4 separate regions of the Homo sapiens genome follow, and regions 1, 2 and 4 are each linked to region 3. The links come from fine-mapping of genetic effects on gene expression. Tissue or cell type: whole blood. Region 3 holds a variant in brackets; each other region holds the start of a gene. Each region is shown on its reference strand, or each on the opposite one.

Region 1 (4,652 bases), not on the chromosome of region 3:
TTAACCAAATTTTGTCTGGTGTGAAAGGACATCCTCAAACCTTTAAGGGTACTTTTTTTTTAATCAGAGATTTTTCAAAGATTTAAATATAAAAGTAAAATAAATTCCGCACAGCCTTAGTTCAAACGAAAAGCCTCCAAAGTAGAAATTTATGTCAATAATTTAAGCAGAGAATAAACCAGCAGTATAACATAAATAACACTTGAGACTATATTTACTATTTCTTAGGATGAATACAAGTCAACACGAAGACATCTGAAGGTATTGAATGTTCGTTCACCAAGTGACAAATACTGAAATGGCTTCCTAAATTCCAGACAAACTACAACTTAGCGATCTGAAAAACATTAGCCTAGACTTTATGAAAGGAAATGCTGCCGTCTCTTCAAGTTGATGTCTAGCCTAAGCCACCATTATTCATGATACAAAGCTCTCATTTCACTAAAACCACTCCTCGATTTCCTTTTGCCGACCTCTGCATACCAGCAGCCTAGTCTTTCTTCATTCACCACTCACAAACTCGAGGGGTGGGGGGAAGACCACAGATGTCTGGAAGATACAAAGTAGGAGACAACGCTCCCTCCAAAAGGGAAGAGAACGAAGGCAACAACTACATACACCCAACTGCCAAAGCTTTCAAGCTTGGCAGATTCAGAAGCAGGCTATAGGAACTTAACTTCGAAAAGTCTCGGTTCAAAGTCCTCTCTCCAGACAAAACACTGAAAGAAGTTGCAATGCTTGAATTCCATTTGGCCAGCTTTGGAGCGAAGGAAAAATTCACTCCGCTGAAAAGAAAACGTGCTCTATAATTCAATTTTAGCTGCCATCAAACTATTTGAATAAATTTAAATTATTTCTACGAACAAAATTCTCGAAGCGGTCTGAGTCAGAGGCTGAATCCTGCAGTTCACTTGGTAAGAAACAGTAAGCCATCACCTTCGCCTTCCTCCACCCCCTTATTTCACCAGGGTCTCATACCCACTACCATAAATCCATAAGACTCCCAGTACATTATCCACTGCTTTCACTCACCTGCATAGTACGCTAAAATACAGGTGCAAGACATGGATTTTTTATGTGCTCACCCTACTGACGCATCGCACCCGCTGCACTTAGAGTTTAGTTGCTCTAAGGTTTAAAGTTGCTTCGATTCAAACTCACATAGCCAGGGCATTAAAAAAAATAATAACACTTCTATTCTTAAGAATGAAAGAGGAAATCTTAAGAGAAAGTCCACTGGTCCGATCCCCAGGACTGATGGGACTTAGGGTGGCGTCTCTGCCTCAGCGCCCGAACCCCAACTCGCCGCAAGAGCTGAGAAGGCGGAGCCCCCCGTCCCCACCCCGCCCCCCACCCAGGGCCCGGCGCATCCCGAGGCACCGGGTCCCTCCCCCAAACTCGGCCAAGGCCAGAGCCCCGGACGGAAACCACAGACCCCCACCCCCACCCCCACCCCGCCTGCCATCCGGGCTCCTGTACGCGCCCCCGCGGCGCCCCCTCCCCGCAAGCGATGCCCCCAGGGCCCCAGAGAGGCAGCGCGACCGGAACCCGGGCCCGGCCGCCGCCCTCCGCGCCCCGGGCGCGGCCCACCCTCACCGTCCCCCACCTGAGCTCCCCGCTCCCAACCCCAGGCCTCCCGGCTGCGCCCAGCCCGCCGCCCGGACCGCGCGCCTGCTACGAAGTTTGGCTCCGAGAGGAAGCGGGAGCAGCCCCGGAAGGATAAGGAAAGGAGCGCCCAAGCACCTCAGGGGAACAGGCTCCTCCCGCCGCGGGAGTCCGACCGTCCTCGACCTGCGGTGGCGGCTCGGCGGGGACTGAAGCTGCTCCTCAGACCTTCCTCCGTCTCCGCCTCCCCTCGCTCTCCGCTCCCGGGGCCGGGCCAACGCTGCTGCCACAGACCGAGAGGCTTAAAATGGCGCCGCACAAGGAGCTCTTATAAGTCGCGCAGAAGCCGCTGTATCCTGCCGCCACCGGCGCAGCGCGGAGCGTTCCGCCGCGCGAGGACAAGGGGCGGGGCGCGAGGGGGCGGTGGAAAGTAGTCCCCGCGCCGCCCAGCAGTCTGCTGCCGTCTGAGCGCCCCGGGCCGGGGTGGGGTGCCTGGGCACCCCACGGACGCTCCCCGGGGTGACGGCTGGCGGCTGCCCGCTGCGCGGCCTGAGGGCAGCCCGTGAGGGCGCTGTGGTCTGCATCGGGGAGGCCGGGCCCCCGCGGCCTGGGTTGGGGAAGGTGGCCCTGGTATCCTCCCCTGTCCCAAGCCCGACGCCCCCGCCCCGCGCGTTTCCCGAACCGGGAGAGCAGCTGCAGGACTCGGCGCGCCTTTCCCGCGGCCTGCGGAAGGTGGCATCTCGGCCCCGGCCTTCGAGTACCGCTCGGGGCGGCCGGGACAGGTCCTGGGAGGGCGGAAGTTCGGGGCCAGGGCGGCGGCAGGGGCTCGGGTTCAGCGCCCGCCCGTCTTGGGGCGCTCCTGGCCCCGCAGCTGCCCCGTCGCTGGTCTGCGGGTTCCCGGCCGGGCGCGGGTTAGGGGGCCTCGCCGACCTTGTGGTCTGTGCCGCACACTCCCTGCTGGACCTGGGTCGCAGCCCAGTCTCACAGCACCCCCAAAGCCCCCCACTGTCCGGATGGTGGATCCCACCTCTCAGCAGGCTGTTCAGCTTGAATTTCGACCTGAATCACCGGGCCGAGCCGCCTTCTGTCCCCACTCACGAAGGCTGTGAACTCTCCGTAGAACGGGCGCCAAGCCCGCAATTCAACAAGTCCTTAGGAGTACCTACTGTGAACAAATAACTAATGGAAATGGATTAGCTCCAGAGCGCTGTCAATTAGGTTAATTCTTATAGATTCCATTTTTATCTGGTTCCACTTGTCACTAGGTATCAATAGATTTATTTGTGGGGATTTTTCTTTGGAGAAGAAGATTTTTACGGTATTACTTATTTGTGAAATCCAAGTATGTTTATAGAGAAAGCTATCGATTAAGCAGCCTCCAATTTTTTAACTAATTTTCTATTTAAAAACGTTTGTAATTCATTTCAATAGACTGAAAAATGTTTCCCATTCTAATGCAGCAAAATTGACGTTTGTCGAAGCTGCAACAAGTATGATCGATTCAGTTTCTCTAGGCTATTGTTTGTGCTTATTTTTCCTCCAAAACATTGGAGAGAGTACAAAAAGCAGCAGTGAAAGTTACCTCTGTGCTTTTATCCCAGGACTACAATTAATACAAGCAAACAATAGGTCTTAACACATAGATGCAGGCGGAAAACCCACTTATTCATTCACTCATGGAGGTAGGATATGTAGTTTAAGGCACAGCTCATGTTTCAGGGCCAGCGTATTCTTTAAATAACTTTTATTTTTGTCTTAAAGATATTTTACTATATAAGTGGTAATGCCAACTGCCGTCTGTCACCATAGCACATGTGGGCCACTGCAGTGGAAAAAGTCTACACACTAAGATGATGTTCAGTGAGATCCATTGTCTAGAAAGACCTTCTCATTTGTATCTTTCCTACTAATTCTGTAGAATCTAAGTGTAGCTATTGGTTGTGGTCACAATTCAAAAAGATTGAACCGAAAAAGGTATTTCATCAAAACCGTGTTTCTAATATAAACTCAAAAGTATAAATGGCGTTTTCAGGTACTGATTCCTAATTTTAATTGTCATTTGCAGAATTAAGGAATATGCAATTGATTAAAGTCATACATTGAAAATCAGACGACAGATTAACCACTTTTACAGGGCTTTTTTTAAAAAAACATGTTTGCTTTTTCTATGTGCAGGTTTTTTGTTTTTGAATAAGGCACTCTTGAAATTGGTTAAGAAATATCTGCACCATTAGAAGATCTAAAGGATAAAAACGTTTCTATATTTGTATTTCTCTGTTCCATTACCAAAATAATGGAATCATTTTTCTATAATTTAAATACTTTAAATTTAGAATTATGATTTTTAATCCCTACTGACACCGTAAACAAATACATTTTATTAAAGAAAATGTAAAATTTGCAACAATGCAGCATGCTGTTTTTCCCATCATATTAAGTGTACTGAAGAATTACTGGTTGACTAGCATTAAACCAAGTTAGTTAAATTTAACATTGCTCCTAATTTTTATTTGCATGTTTCATAAAGCAGAAATTGTTCTAGTTGTCTCACCAAAAATAAGAGATGAATAACTTCTGTGAAATGAAGACAAACACTATCATTAAATCAAAGAAAAATACATTATCAAGATACATGAGTTTGGTAAAATAAGTAATTTTGTTAAATAATTTTTTTGAATTGACCTTGGACAATACATTTCATAAAAACAGTTGGTTATCTGTTTTATGTCTTTTCCTTCTAGAGCCAGTCACCCCGGGTTTGACATAAATTAATTTTATAAAATGGCGACAGACAAGTGGTTCTAATTTTTAGGCTGTGTTCTTAGAAACAAAAGTGTCTCCAGCTAGTTTAAAAGAGAAGATATTTCTTTTCACGCTATCAGGCCACTGGCATATAAAGCAGTGGTAGACTGAACCTGAATGTAAGGCATCCCTTCGCTAAAACAGAGGCTTTTGATTACCTTTAAGAGAGGAAAAAAAAAAAAAAAAGCCAAGATTATTTCACACTTCAGACAGAAATATGAATCACAGAAATATGCCAGTATTGT
Region 2 (4,652 bases), not on the chromosome of region 3:
TTGGCAGATGCTAATATATACAATTATAAAAAGATAACGAGGACAAGAAAACACAGGCCTCCGGATAAAAATGAGCCTTTACTAGGAGAGCAGGAAAGCCGTCTTTCTTTTTCTAAGTACTTATTTCTGTAAATACTAGCCTGATGGGTAAAGGATATAAATATAGTTGGTATCTGTAGGGGACTAGTTCCAGGACATCTCTTCCTACCCCTAAGATCTGAGGATGTTCAAGTCCCTGTTATAAAATGGCATATTTTCATATAACCTATGCATACCTGTATTCTTTAAATCATCTCTAGATTGCTTCTAATACCTAATACAATGCCTACACATCACTTCATTCACATGGATTCAAGGCAGTACTTGAATATGGCAAATTCAAGTTTTGCTTTTTGGAACTCTGCAGAATTTTTTTCCCCCTCAAATATTTTTTTACTTGAGTTTGGTTAAATCACAGGTGCAGAGCCTACGGATAAGACAGCTGACTGCAATATAGTAAATTTTGATTACCAAGTATCTCATTAAGTGTTCCCAAGTATTTCATATATTCAAGGTTAAAATGATTCGGGCCGGGTGTGGTGGCTCACACCTGTAATCCCAGCACTTTGGGAGGCCAAGGCGGGCGATCACTTGAGGTCAGGAGTTCGAGAGCAGCCTGGCTAACATGGTGAAACCCCATCTCTACTAAAAAAAAAAAAAAAAATTAGCCGTGTGTGGTGGCGGGTGCCTGTAATCCCAGCTACTAGGGAGGCTGAGGCAGGAGAATCGCTTGAATCCGGGAGGCGGAGGTTGCAGTGACCTGAGATCACACCCCTGCACTCCAACCTGGGTGACAGAATGAGATTCGGTCTCAAAAAATAAATAAATAAATAAATAAATAAAATTAAATGATTCTTGGTATTTTTAAAGAAAACAAAATTTAAATGTTTTAATAAACTGCAGTTAAATTCTTTCAACAAAAGTAGAGTGTGTATAAGCAAGTAAAAACTAAAAGTTGTCTTGAAGTCTACCACTGTCATTTCCCTCCGTGTAATACTGCTCTACATTTATGAAACCCTGTTTTTCCTGTTTGATACATTTTCCCAAGAGCTTGCCCTAGAGCTAAATTTTTTAACGCTTCTCATGTATCACTTAAATAACAATTGTACTAAAGTTTGTTTTTATTACTGAAGGCAAAAACTCCATTTTTGCCTGCCCATAAAAAATCATTGTTGTATCTGACATTTTTAAAGTGTACATTTTAAAGTGTCCTATCACATAATATGAACATAGGAAGAGAATGTCATGTTAAAAATTAGCAAAGTAATTGTTTCTGCACAGAATGCATTTTTCAATTTGGGCAGTTCTCCCAGAATAAAGTAAACAAGTGAAGCAACTAGCATTCTTACTAGAACAGTGACAAGGCATTTTCTTTTTAGTTTCTTTTCACTTATTAGTCTACTAGGATACTTGAATACTGTCTCTATGCTGGTGTCTAAAACCCTCAAAGGAGAGTACAATTGCAGGATAAACGAAGAGTGTCCAGGAAGAGAACTAGACAAGAAAGGAAACAGATGGTCTCTGGGCTCGGTGAGCTTGGAAGCTGTCGAAAGCAAACTCGACTGGACCCTCCAAACTCCTATTTCAGATCAATACATAAGGTTCAGCTGAGTTCGGCCTCCAGGCCCAAGAAAGCAAAAGCCAGCAACCCGGGGGCTGGTCGGCGGCTCCCTCGCCAGGGACGCCCCACAGCGAGACCATGCCTCTCCCACCTCTACCCCCGAAAACCAAAACAAAACAGAACCAAGCCCAAGCGGTGCTTGCTCGTTTCTTTTGTCTTGCTCAACGCTGACCACTTTTTTTCCGGAGAAGGTTAACGTTAAGGGAGCCCGGGGGAGCTCTCTGCGACCCCGCCAGGTGCTCCCCGAACCCCCGGCCCCATCAGAGGAATGAGGCGACCACCGAGCGGCGTTGGGCGGCCAGGTCCTCCCCGGCACCCCCGCCCCGGCTCCTGGAGGAGGGCAGGGACTGCCGGCCTGGGGCAGCCAGGGACCGACGGGACCCCCGCAGAGCCAGGCCCGAGGCCCCGGGCGCCCCCACGACCCGGCGGCCGCCCAGGGCGCCCGCCTGGGGCCTCACCCCAACCGGGGACAGGGCCGCCGAGGGCCGGGCCAAGGCCGCCCGGCTTGTCCCCGAGGCCGCCGGGGAGCGTAGGCCGCCGCCATCCCCGGCCTGCCGTGCGCCCGCAGCCCGCGGCCTTACCGCCTCCACGGCGTGCTGCAGGATGGAGGTGAACTTGGAGAACATCCTGTCCCGGGACTGCAGCAGCCTCTCCCGGGACGACCTGGAGAGCTCCTCGATCCGCCGCCGCCGCCCCTGCTGCGGCTGCCGGGGCCGCTCCAGAGTGAAGGCCGGTGCGGGGCGGGGAGGACGAGCTGAGGATCGAGGCAGGGCCTGGCCCGGCCGCTTCAGGTGTGCGCGGGCGGCTCGGCGGCTCCGGAGGGCGCCGGGACGCGGCGGGCGGCGAGGAGGGCGTTCGGCGAGGACTCGGGGCCCGGAGAAGCTCCGGCGGCGGCACCGGTTGGGACACGGTGGCAGCCCGGCTCGGGTTCCTTCCCCCCGCTCTGCCCGCCGCGGCCTGCAGGGGGCGCCGCCGCAGCCCGGGGAGGCCCGGCCAGGCCTGCCCTGCGGCGGGGCCGCTAGGCGCCGCGGGGGCGGGGGGCGCGCTGAGGCCTCGGCCTCGCGCGGGGCTGGAGGCGGCCTGTGGGCAGCCACCGCCCTCTCCCGGCTTTCTCAGGGCGCCTGGGACACCGGCTTTCTAACATTTTTACAGCTCAGCGATTCTCAAGAGTTTTGTTTCTCCAGTGGAAGTAACAGGCTGACTTTGTAGGGACACGCAGCCGTCCATATATGCGTATAGCATTCAGAGGTTCTTCCTGTAAGGACCGATTTGGAAGACTCGTTAAGAAAACAGTGTTCTTTAAGCAAACATTGGCAATGGATTTAAATGCTCAGATTTTGAAGAAATCAACGACTGCAGGTGAAATGGCTTTGCTAACTTTAAAATATATTATTATTCAACATTGAAACAGGAAATCCCACATGAGCACATGGTAAGACGGCTGGCTTAGTTTAAATAGCCCATTATAATATTTATATATAATATATAACATAATTTATTTGTGATATGGTTGATAGTGAGGTGTAGTGATTCAGAACAGCATTTTCTATTCAGTTATCAGATGATACCGGAAAACATTAGCGAGGGAAAGAATCTGAAAGGAGTCCAGTAAATGCCTAAGGCAGATAAATAGAGCTACAAGGTAAGCACTTGGGTGGAGGCTGCTTAAAATACTCCCTAACAGTGTATTAGTCAAGCCTTGAAGAAGCAGTTCAGGCTGGTAAAGTTTAGGTTGAGTTAATACAAATTATGAAAATATTTGTATCCTGAAGAAATTTGTTTTATGCTGGTATTGGCGTTTTACCAAAAGGTTCATTAAGTTCTTAAGATGAGGTGGGGAGTGAGTTTTGCACAACCAGTGCTGAAAATACGTATCTGGCCCAGGCGCGGTGGCTCACGCCTGTAATCTCAGCACTCTGGGAGGCAAAGGCGGGAGGATCACTTGAGGCCAGGAGTTCGAGACCAGCCTGGCCAACATGGTGAAACTCCGTCTCTATTAAAAATACAAAAAAAAAAAAAAAAAAAAAATTAGCCGAACGTGGTGGTGTAATGGGATTACATGCTTGTAATCCCAGCTACTTGGGAGGCTGAGGCAGGAGAATCCTTGAACTCGGGAGGCGGAAGTTGCAGTGAGCCAAGGTTGCGCCATTGCGCTCCAGCCTGGACAACAAGAGCAAAACTCCATCTCAAAAAAAAAAAAAAAAATACACACACACACACACACACACACACACACACACACACATACATGTATACACACACATACGTTTATACATACACAAACGTATATATACACATACGTATATATACATGTATACACACACACACGTATATATATCTGTAATTGATTCATGGAACAGAGAAAAGGTGGCTGTCATATGGAGTGGTGGTAACTGGCCAGGCTCTGGGGCTGGGTAGCCTAAGTCCCAGCTCTGCCACCCACAGTGGAAAGTTATTTAACTTCTTTGTGTTTTAATTTGCTTATATGTCAAAAGGGGAGAACAGTACCTACCTCTTGAGGTTGTTGTGGGAATTAATTAATATATGTAAAACACTTTAACAGTGCCCAGTCCCTAGTAAGAGATGCACAGACACTTATACTTGTTCTGAGTTGTGGTAGTGGTATTTAGCAAAATAATAGGGCCAGAAATCAGGAATTAAGGAGGAGATCTTAACTGGGCTTCTTTTCCCTCCTGTTTTTGTGGTTTATATCCCTGCGGTGCTCCTTGGCAGATAAATACGACCTTAATTTTCTACGTACTACCCCCAGAATGCTGGAGGCATCCTCTGTTGTTTTGTGCCCCTTACCAAATTCTGGCCGTGTCTGCTTCAACTGAGAGCATGTATGTATGCTTATTGTTATTATATTCATACACAGTTTAAGATGGTTAGTCATATTATTAACCATAATTAGTTTCATGATCTAATTATCATGCATTTATATGGCATTTTGTAGTTCCAAAATGCCTTACAACCACTAATTGTATGAGGA
Region 3 (4,652 bases):
TTGCTTCCGATGTCAGTTTGTTTCTTGCGGTGGGTGCAGGTGCCGCAAGACCCACTTCTTCCTGGTTTATTTTTTTCACTGGAGCTTTTTCTTGTGTTTTAATTTTCTTAGCAACTGACAAAAGAAAAGAAAAAGGGCACAATAGGCCTAGAGTGGAATAGCTTATCTAAGACAGCTGAGGCAGTTTCAATATTACCTGCTGTCAGCTCCTGCATGAGAGTTCGGATTTGCCTGTTACCTCTACTGCATTAACCCAGCCTGGCTCCTAGGAGGCCAACAGCAGCATGGTAGGCATAGGCACTGTCTCATTCTCCTCAGTGCTTTACTCACTCCTCCCCTTTGCAGTGAGAACATGCTTCCTTTCCTGTGAACTCCATGTGCCTCAATCAACCCTTTCTCAGTCTTGTTCTCCTACCATTTCTTTTAAATATCTAAGGCTTTCATGATGCTGACAGGCTGGTCATGTTCTGTGCAATATCTGTTCAAATGACAGAAATATGACCTGAAAGGAAATATGATCTGAATTGTAATGTGGCAAAGTGCTAATATTGGCTTTTGAATTAAAAAAAGAACAGTGATTTATTAAGTGGAAAAATTCTACACGTCTCTTAATAGAACTATTGCTGCATAAATTGGTTAAATATAAATATTTCAAATAAAACACATTTTTTAAAGTAGCTTTTTTTTTCATTTTCTGACATTTTTGATTTACTGAAACACTCACCGTCTCATAAATCCCTGTCTTTGGTTTTTTATCCTTACCTCAAATACATTCTTCTAAATATATCAATCTCTTTCATATGAAACAGAATGTTCTAAATTGCCAACTGGTCAGTCTCTGAGGTGCCAACATCCCCATGACTGCTGAGTTATAAATTGGAAAAGGGATGTACCAGCTATGACCAAGGTGGGGTTCTACTGAAGACTGGGGAGACTCAAGGCAGAGTAGCTATGTGCAAGGTTTTCTCTATTACCTTTTGACTTCTCTTTTCGAAGATTGTTAACAAGGTTTTTAAGTGATGGCATATCTTTGGCAAGTTCTATTAGTTTGTCTAGACAGGCAACGCCTTGGAACTTTTTTTCCATCAAATCTGTAATCTTAATTCTGTTGTATTCCTCTTGCATTTTTGTAGTTAGTCCTAAATCATAGGCCAGTAAGGACTTAATTGATGTAAAATGATAATCATCCATGAGCTCAAATCCTTTCAGCAAAAGAATTTTCTTGTATTCATTCACCATTTCTGATGTTATAGCTTGGCCTATAAAGTAAAAATGACACACAACATTACACATTTATGCAGACAATTTTAAAAAATGAGATATGCTTTTGTGAGTGAGTGTCCCAGGCCAAAATGTTGTCCTTGGATGCGTATAAGAAAAAGGGACTAAGTTACCAGATATGTCACTGTGAACAATGGATCAAGACTTGCTTTATTAGGAGGTTCAGTGAAGTTCTTCCCTTTTAATGTTGATAAGTTGGGACAGAGGTGTATGTGGTGAAATGATGTTTGGAAACAGGTAATTGTTGCAGTATTTATAGTATGGGTTTTGTGGTGTCAAAGTCCCTGGTTCCTCTTCTGATATTTTATTGGGGCCTGAGCCTATCCCTCAATGCCTACCTCTTGGTTCCTGATTCTTCCCTGATTCTTCCCTGATTCTTCCTGGTCATCCACTATGACCAAAGTGGCCTAAGTATAAATGGGCTGCAGCCACTCACCTTATGTGAATAACCTTCTGCCACAGCACTACAGTTCTGAGTTGTGGAATGGACTCTAGTCCTTCTTGGCTCTCCCTAATCAGCTCTCGTTAGCACTTTTTCTCCCTGGGGCTTAGAACTTGTTCTCTGTGTCCTATGCATCTATAAAATTGTCATTTTGCCATCCTCCTATCTGCTCTCTAGTGTGGAATTGCAGCATTTATTTTTTGCACATTTGTTTTTTACAGTCAATTATTTACCTCCAACTAGTCTTACTTTTACTAAAAGGTTTCTGTCAGACAACCAAGTAGGTTTCTTTATGGATAAAGACATGACTCTATTTTTCCTGAAATCCTTCAATGAGTTTTGATTTTTATTAGTATAGATTTCTACTCAGCATGACTTGAAAGGCCTTGCATAAACTGTATCTTTCTTTTTGTGTGTGTCTGTTACTTTTGAATTTCTTATACCTTATGCTCTAGAAATACACAATATGTCTTTCTTTTTCAGGTCTTCTTACTGCTAATTCCCTTCCTGCTATCTGGGAAAGCATTCCCAGTTTTCTTCCTCTGAATACTTCCTTAGAGTTTTTAATGCTTAATTGAGGCTTTATCTTCTGCGAGCTGTTGTGGTCCCACTCTCACTTATGTGTGCCTCTTTAACCCCTTGTGTACTACCTAAGGGCATTCAGTTCCTAACGTATATTCCAATTTTCTGTTTAAATTTATAGGTATTCCTTTAGGTTGGTGACCATGTGTTTGTGCAACTTTTATATAATTAGAGTGTCCAAATTCTTAGGGCTGTAAATTGTTCTCTTTTGGGAGAACATGAGTGTTCCTGTGTTTAAACCTATCAGATAAAGAGAAATTTCACACATGGGCACATATAGTAAAGCCAAAGAATATTAAAAGCAAAATGATAAAATCTTCCAGAAATACTGAGTAGAACACCTACAAAGATTAAATAATCTGATTGAACAGTCTGCAGCAGGTTAAGAAAGTAATTTTTACATAGTACTGATCCATAATTATATGTCTGCAATTTTAAAACCTAAGAAGATACTGAAGGATGAAAAGATTTGTGCGGTTTGGGGGCTTGGGAAGGGATGAGAGTTAGCAGGGAAGTGTGGTAGCAAAATCATCTTGCAAATTAGAGATATAATGTGAAGTAATAC[G/A]TGGCTGATATGGTTTGGCTATGTCCCAACCCAAATCTCATCTTGAAATATCATCTTGTGATAGTGAGCAAGTTCTCATGAGATCTATGGTTTTATAAACATCAGGCATTTCCCCTGCTAGCACTCATTCTCTCTCCTGCCACCCTGTGAAGAGGTGCCTTCCATCATGATTGTAAGTTTCCTTAGGACTCCCCAGCCGTGCGGAACTGTGAGTAAATCAAATCTCTTTTCTTTATAAATTACCCAGTCTCAGGTATTTCTTCATAGCAGCGTGAGAAGGAACTAATACAGTGGCTATTTTTAATCTTCCTTATTCATCTCACTTTAATGTGAATAGTGGCATGATTTGTTGAAGAACTCTTAATGCATTTGATATTAGGATGTTGATATTACCTCTACTGGGACACTTGCAGTGCCTACATACAATGTATGCATTAAGTAGTCTTTCTAAAATCCCCCCCTAAAAAAATGAATTAAAAATCAGAGTTGTCCCAGGGGTTTCAGGTGAAGTGCTGTGAATCAGTTTTCAAGCAAAAATATTTTTCAAACTAAAATTTTGTATCTGGTCAAAATGTTATTTGAATGTTATGGTTTAAAAAATTGTTCTCTTCTCACTGAGAGTGACATTAGCAAGATTGCAGACAAGGACGTTCCAGACTTTCATTATACCATGGAAACACCAAATAAAGAACAATTTATGAACCAAACTAATGTTTTCAGCTGTTAAGAATTGGTTGCAACAAAGGAAATTCCAAACCAAGATTAAGCCACATTCAAAATAGTGGAAAACTTCTAGGTGTTTTTCTTTGTCCCTGTTTAACTTTCTCCCTTGAATGGTGTGACGTGATCAGGAGGAAACTTCCTAATTCCTCATTCTTCCTTTGGAATAGAAGGAAAAGTGTGGAACTGCTTTGCAACATTATAGCTTCTCTGTAGGTTCCTTGAGGGACTAGTAACTGCTTCACATGACTTGGAGCATTGATGGAAATGGTGGCATAGTTTAAATGTCAGATTTGAGGCTGCAAAAAGTAGTGGTGGGTGCTCCAGCTTGTGAGAGCTTCATGGGATCTGCTACTCCCTGGGTGCCAGAAGGCAAGAGATTATGGATAGAGGAATACAGTAGAACATCTAAGGTCATGAAAAGAGGCAGGTGTGGCTCTTAGGGAAATTACAGATTAAAAGCAGTGTGTATATGAGAGAATTACAAAAAATGCACACACATAAGCCCAGGCAAGACACACGTCCATATAGGCCTCAGAGAACGTTTATATTTCATACTTAGCTGAAGAGTGAAAGTCCTCCCCTGAATATGGTGCCAGTTAACAATGGTTGAGAGGGGGCTGTTTTTACAAATGTCCAGTTTTCAACAAAAGGTATACAAAGAAACAGGTAAACATGGTCAATTTTAAAGAAAAAAATGAATCTCCACAAACTTTCTCTAAAGAAACACAGCCCTCAGACTTTCTTGTCAAAGACTAAAACAGCACTCTTAAATATGATAAATGAGTTAAAGGAAAATAGGTAGAGACAACTAAATAAAATCAGGAAAATGATTAATAAAAAATGAGAATAGACAAAAAATAGAAATTACCAGAAAAAATTCCATAAATTCTGAAGCTGAAAAACACATTGACTGCATTGTAAAATCCACTAGAGGGGTTCCTCAGCCCACACCAATAGGCAGAAGAATCAGTTAGCTTTTAGACAGGTCATGTGTAATTATCAAGGCTGAAGAACAAACTTTTTTAAAAGATATAAAGGAAAGTGAACAGAACTTATAAA
Region 4 (4,652 bases), not on the chromosome of region 3:
TGTTTAATGTTAAGTGGATATAGATAAAAAGGCTGGAATGGGAGCAGGCTGTTCTCTCCTAGCAATGAATGTAGAGTGAGTTTTATTTTTTGAGCATTTTTATTTTTCATGTTTTCAGAATGAGCATAGCTTTGTCATTGGAAAAAAATAAAAAACCTTTAACAGAAGAAGAAGCAATAGCAGCAGCAGCAGCTGGTACCCCTCTCTGAGCCAGATTAGGGGAGGAGACAGGTCACCGAAGTGGAAGAACAGGACACACAAAGCGCAGGAGGAGAGAGGGGAGAGAAGGTGGAGGCTTCTGGAGAAGGATGAGGTCAGAGCTGCTGCACTGAACAGCTCCAGAGGACAAAGGTCCTAGTGTGTTCTATGAGAATGGCACGCTGTAGAGGGGCATGGAGGTGGGGCCGCCCCAAGATCAGCTCTTGGAGGAGTGTAGACTTTAATTCCACCTGGTGGTCCCTACAGAACGGAGAGTCCTTGCCCAAAGGCACAGAGAAGGATGGAACAACAATGTGGTGTGTGGGGGAGGGTCTCTGCACCTTTCCTGACATCTTTTCTTCGGGAGATCCTCATAGAACCATAATGCTTTGTTTTGGGACCAGAAGCATCATAAGCATCATCATTTTTCCAGCTTCATCTCCTGTTACTTTCCCCTTCACCCATTCTACTCCAACCTCACACTCGCTCTGTCTTGACTATTTTGGACACACTCCTACCCCAGCCTTTGCACTTGCTATTCCTCATGCTCGGCGCAGTTCTTCCCCAGACATCCACACGGCTTGCTCCCTCAATTTCTTCAGGCTTTAAATGTTACTTTCTCATAGAGGCCTTCTCTTGTATTTGAGCCTCACTCTTATCTCACACTTCCTATTCCCCTTCTCCGCCTTATTTTTCTCCACCCCATGGAGACCCTCTGACACATTCTCCCGTTTGTCTGTCTTTCCCCCACGAGACTGCAAACTACAGGAGGGCAGAGATTTCTGCCTGTTCTCTTGGCTGTTTCATATCCAGCACCCAAATCGATGTATGACACAAAATACGTTCTCAGTACTTAATCGAATTAACGAATGCATGAATGGCAGGTATTGGACATTGTTTTGCAAACTCTTAAAGTAAGGTGTAAAGCATCCCGGTGAGGTGGAGGTTACTGCCGCTGCGATTCCCGCGCAGCCTGAGGACTGGGGGGTGGGGGTGGGGGTCTCTAATTACCTCCATAATCCCCAGTAGCGGCACTTTAAACTTCACATCAACCCTGAGGGATGTGTATTATTATCCAAATTTAGTTCACAGCTGGATGGAGAAGTGGCTTCCGGCTCCACACTTTGGAGGGAGGGGAGTAGAGGGCAGGCCCCCATTTAAGTACCCGGGATGGGGCACCAATGCCTTCAGGCGGTAAACCAATTTAGGAAGACGTGGCGGGCTTTGTGGCGGCTCCTCCTCTTTCGGCCTGTCCGCAGTTTTTAAAAAACGTGTGTGATGATAAGGAATCACTGTCTACATTAGTAATTCCCAACTTGGGTCCGAAAGTGAACTTTTGCTGAAGCGAAGTAGCTAACCGCTTCCATGTGCAAGGCAGGTTCCAGACTTCGGGGTGAGGAGGATTAACTGAAGGACCCCAGGGGAACCGGGTGCGCAGTAATTGATCTTGGGGCAGACCAGGGCTTGGCGGTGGCCTGTATCTAAAGACAGCGGGGTCTCTGAGGCGGGGCAGGGGGGAGTTGGCATTGACTGGGGAGGGAAGAGCGATCGCTGGTAACAGCCATTGTGCCTTCCCACTGGGTTAGTGGGAAGGTTCCTAAAGATGCCGTGGCAGCGACAGTCCCGTGCTCAGAGCCAGGCACACAGTAGGCGTTCACTCGAGACGCAGAGTCTGGGACGCGCCCTGAAGAAGCTCCTCTCCAGGGGCCTGGCCCTTCCCAAGGACTGGGCTCTGGGCGTCCCCGGGGTCATGGGTCAGACCTCGCGTCCGGGGTGCGGGCTGGTGCCTGGGCGCAGAGCGGCCGGCGTCAACGGGTAGGGCGCGGGCCCGGGGTCAAGGCCGGGGCGCCGGGCGGCACGGGCGCGGAGGCCGGACGCTCGGGGCCGCGAAGGGATGTGACGAGCGGCGCGCTGTGCATTGTGGGAAGCCGGCCGCGAGGACTGGTTCCAGTTCACTCGGCAGCGGCGCCGGGCGGAGGGGGAGAGCGCGGGCCGCGCGGGCGGGAAGCGAAGAGGCGGGCGGGCCAGCGAGGAGCGCGGAGAGAAAAGGCGCGAGCGGCCAGGAGGGCTCAGGCCGAGACACCTTGCAGCTGCCGCCGCCGCCACCGAGCCGCCGCGTAAGTGCCGCGCGGGCCCCCTTGCCGCACTCCCTGTCCCCGCCGCTCGGGTCCGGCCGCGGGTGCCCGGGAGCGGCCCGGCCTGGCGCGCACCGGTGTGGTGCGGGCCGGGCTCGGGCCGCCGGGTTCGGTGTGGCCCACGCCGGGTCCTCGCGCGTGCACTACGTCCTCCCAGGCCTTGTCGGGCCGCGCGGGATTCCCTTTGGTTTTGTTCAAAAAAGAAACCTGGAAACCAACTTCTCTTCGAAACGCATCCCCCTGCCCGCGCCTGGGCGCTTTTGTGGGAAAAAAGCGGTGCTGGCGCCTACCCTGGCGACCCTTCCTGGGGCGGGCTCACGGGCCAGGCCCGAGGCCGCAGGAGGCCCCGCGGCGCTGGCTAGGCAGTCTGGGCCTGGGCACCCGGGAGCTGCTGTGAGCAGAGTTGTACTTGGTGAGGCCCCCGCCGGCCCGCGAGTTGCCGGCCCCGGCACAATAAGTCGGGCCCGAGCCCCGGGGGGCCGAGGTGTAGGCGTCTGGCTCGCTATCTGCAGGGAGGGGAAGGCGGGGGCTACTCGCGGGATTGAAGCCGGGCTGGTGCGGGGGACCGGGTTGGGGAGTGGTCCAAGGATGGGCTGGAGAGGGGCCACGGGAACCCCCGCTGCTCCCGATTGTCTCGGTATCAGCCTTTTGTTTGCTTTGTGGTAGGAAGGGTTTGCTTTTTTTAAAAGGTAACTCCGGAAGGCTGTAGGCTTCCCCGGGTGGAGAAGGCCAGCAGGAAAGAGCCTCGCTGGGGGTGGGGTGGAGTGGGGAGGTGAGTGTGCAGGATGCTGCTGGCAGTGTCACCTGACAACAGGTGTGCGACATGGCGCTCCCTACCCCCACTCCTGCAGGGGCCACAGATCACTCAAGGAGTTGGTCAGTACATTGCTTGAAAGGTTCTTTTAGACAAGATGTTAGGGGAAATGTTTCTGAGTTTCAAAGTGAGAGACTTCTGTACAAACAACTGGGACAAACCTTGAATTCAACAATTACAATGACTATAAAGGCCTTGTAAGATTTTAATGACCCAGTAAACAGCACATAAGAATAGACAATTAGAGGGGGCACTCCTGCTAGCTTCCCTCTTTTCTTCCACCTTTGTGGTTTGAGGTTTTACCGTTAAAGTAGGGGGTAAGGGAAGTGTTTTGTTCCAAAGCTCCCTGCTCCAGGGAGTCGGGCATTTTTTAACAGTCTTAGGTTTGAATGGGAGACTCGAGTTGTAAATTAGGTGGAATTCACCTACTGCAGGCCACCTTTAGGCTACTAGCCTGTTGTCAGAGGTGTTAACTCTGAAATGGACACCTCTTGCCTGCAACTGGAATTAATACCCATTGTACACATTTAACTAGAGTTGGGCAGCAGCATCTCAGTCTTGCACAAGAGACTCTCTGATGAGGATGAGTATGTTTTCAAACTTATTTTTTCTTAAACACAACAAAACTCTTGAAAGACTTCAAATTCTTCCCCCTTCTAGTTTTACAAGGAGAGAGAAATCTTTCCAGTCTGTTCTTTGGCTTCGATCTGTCACCATTGTTAATGCTGATCCCTAGATAAGGCATTAAGAGGGTTGTCTAAATGAAAATTGTTTGAGGCAGGCCTTTAGAAGGAGGCATAATTTAACTCACATTTTATTAAACTTTAAGAATTGTCTGGAACTTCACATGTGACATTCTAGTATACAACCATGCCACTGGTTTAGTTTTTACCAAATGGGCCAGTGTCAGGGAGTGACACATCTCCATCTGATGTTTCTTCTGGTCCCTGAGAGAGGCGAACTTGAGGAGCGCCTCGCATTCCTTCCCCACTGAGAAGCTCAGAGGGCATGTGTTCTGGGACCTGCCTTCAGAGCTAATGCGGCCCCAAGTCACCTAAAGGAGATTTATTTAAATAAAAGCATAAACTGAAAACCTCAAGCCGAAGAACCCAACAAGACTCTATATGTGTTGTTCATCAGAACTGCAACAGCCTCTGGTTTTATTTGAGTGTCCCCAAGGATTTGTGACAGCCTTTTCAGAGCCCCATTCCTAGAACATGGGCTGGGAAGGGGCAGGAGTGATTGGGGCCCAGATCTCTGTGGGTCCTTCCCATATTCTGTAGGTTTAGAGGTCTTTTGGGCCCTGCCTCAGTGCTTACAAGTGAGCCTGAGTGAGTCAACTCTTCATTCCAAAGAGTTGTATAGCTTGTTTGCTTGGACCAAACCTGTCAGGTCAGTGTCTCAGAGTCTTTCCATAAAGATTTCCTGAGAATCAGCTCCTGTTCAGGCACTGGGGACACAGCCGTGATTAAGAAATGCCTAGCCCCTACCTTGGGGGAGCTGAC

The links. PIP is the estimated chance that this variant, and not a neighbour inherited with it, causes the effect. A credible set is the group of variants that fine-mapping cannot tell apart.
Region 1: CTNNB1 starts here. The variant in region 3 is fine-mapped to the expression of CTNNB1 in whole blood (TOPMed, PIP above 0.99).
Region 2: FHIP2A starts here. The variant in region 3 is the best candidate, but not a certain one, in a credible set for the expression of FHIP2A in whole blood (TOPMed, PIP 0.89).
Region 4: MACROH2A1 starts here. The variant in region 3 is fine-mapped to the expression of MACROH2A1 in whole blood (TOPMed, PIP 0.90).

The regions. Positions count from the first base shown.
Region 1 is chr3:41,196,762-41,201,413 of GRCh38, reverse strand. CTNNB1 (catenin beta 1) reads right to left here and starts at 1,909. Exons shown (of 15, transcript NM_001904.4): 1 at 1,744-1,909. RefSeq lists enhancers at 1,039-1,148, 1,859-1,918, 1,260-2,206 and silencers at 1,499-1,618, 2,049-2,508.
Region 2 is chr10:114,819,713-114,824,364 of GRCh38, reverse strand. It overlaps FHIP2A (FHF complex subunit HOOK interacting protein 2A), which reads right to left and starts at 2,585. Exons shown (of 17, transcript NM_020940.4): 1 at 2,242-2,585. The coding sequence starts at 2,286. It overlaps LOC124902508 (translation initiation factor IF-2-like), which reads left to right and starts at 1,417. Exons shown (of 2, transcript XM_047426127.1): 1 at 1,417-3,092. The coding sequence starts at 2,264. The coding sequence ends at 2,869. RefSeq lists silencers at 1,887-2,106, 2,167-2,516, 2,527-2,836 and an enhancer at 1,681-2,181.
Region 3 is chr1:158,838,741-158,843,392 of GRCh38, reverse strand. It overlaps MNDA (myeloid cell nuclear differentiation antigen), which reads right to left. Exons shown (of 7, transcript NM_002432.3): 2 at 975-1,259; 3 at 1-114. The coding sequence starts at 1,239. It also overlaps a transcript of OR6N1 not described here. Among named protein-coding and RNA genes, the nearest start is that of MNDA, 9.7 kb to the right of the region's middle. The variant G/A (reference allele first, on the strand shown) is at 2,871.
Region 4 is chr5:135,396,725-135,401,376 of GRCh38, reverse strand. It overlaps MACROH2A1 (macroH2A.1 histone), which reads left to right and starts at 2,146. Exons shown (of 9, transcript NM_138610.3): 1 at 2,146-2,315. RefSeq lists enhancers at 889-1,394, 1,395-1,900 and silencers at 1,801-2,260, 2,271-2,440, 2,751-2,810.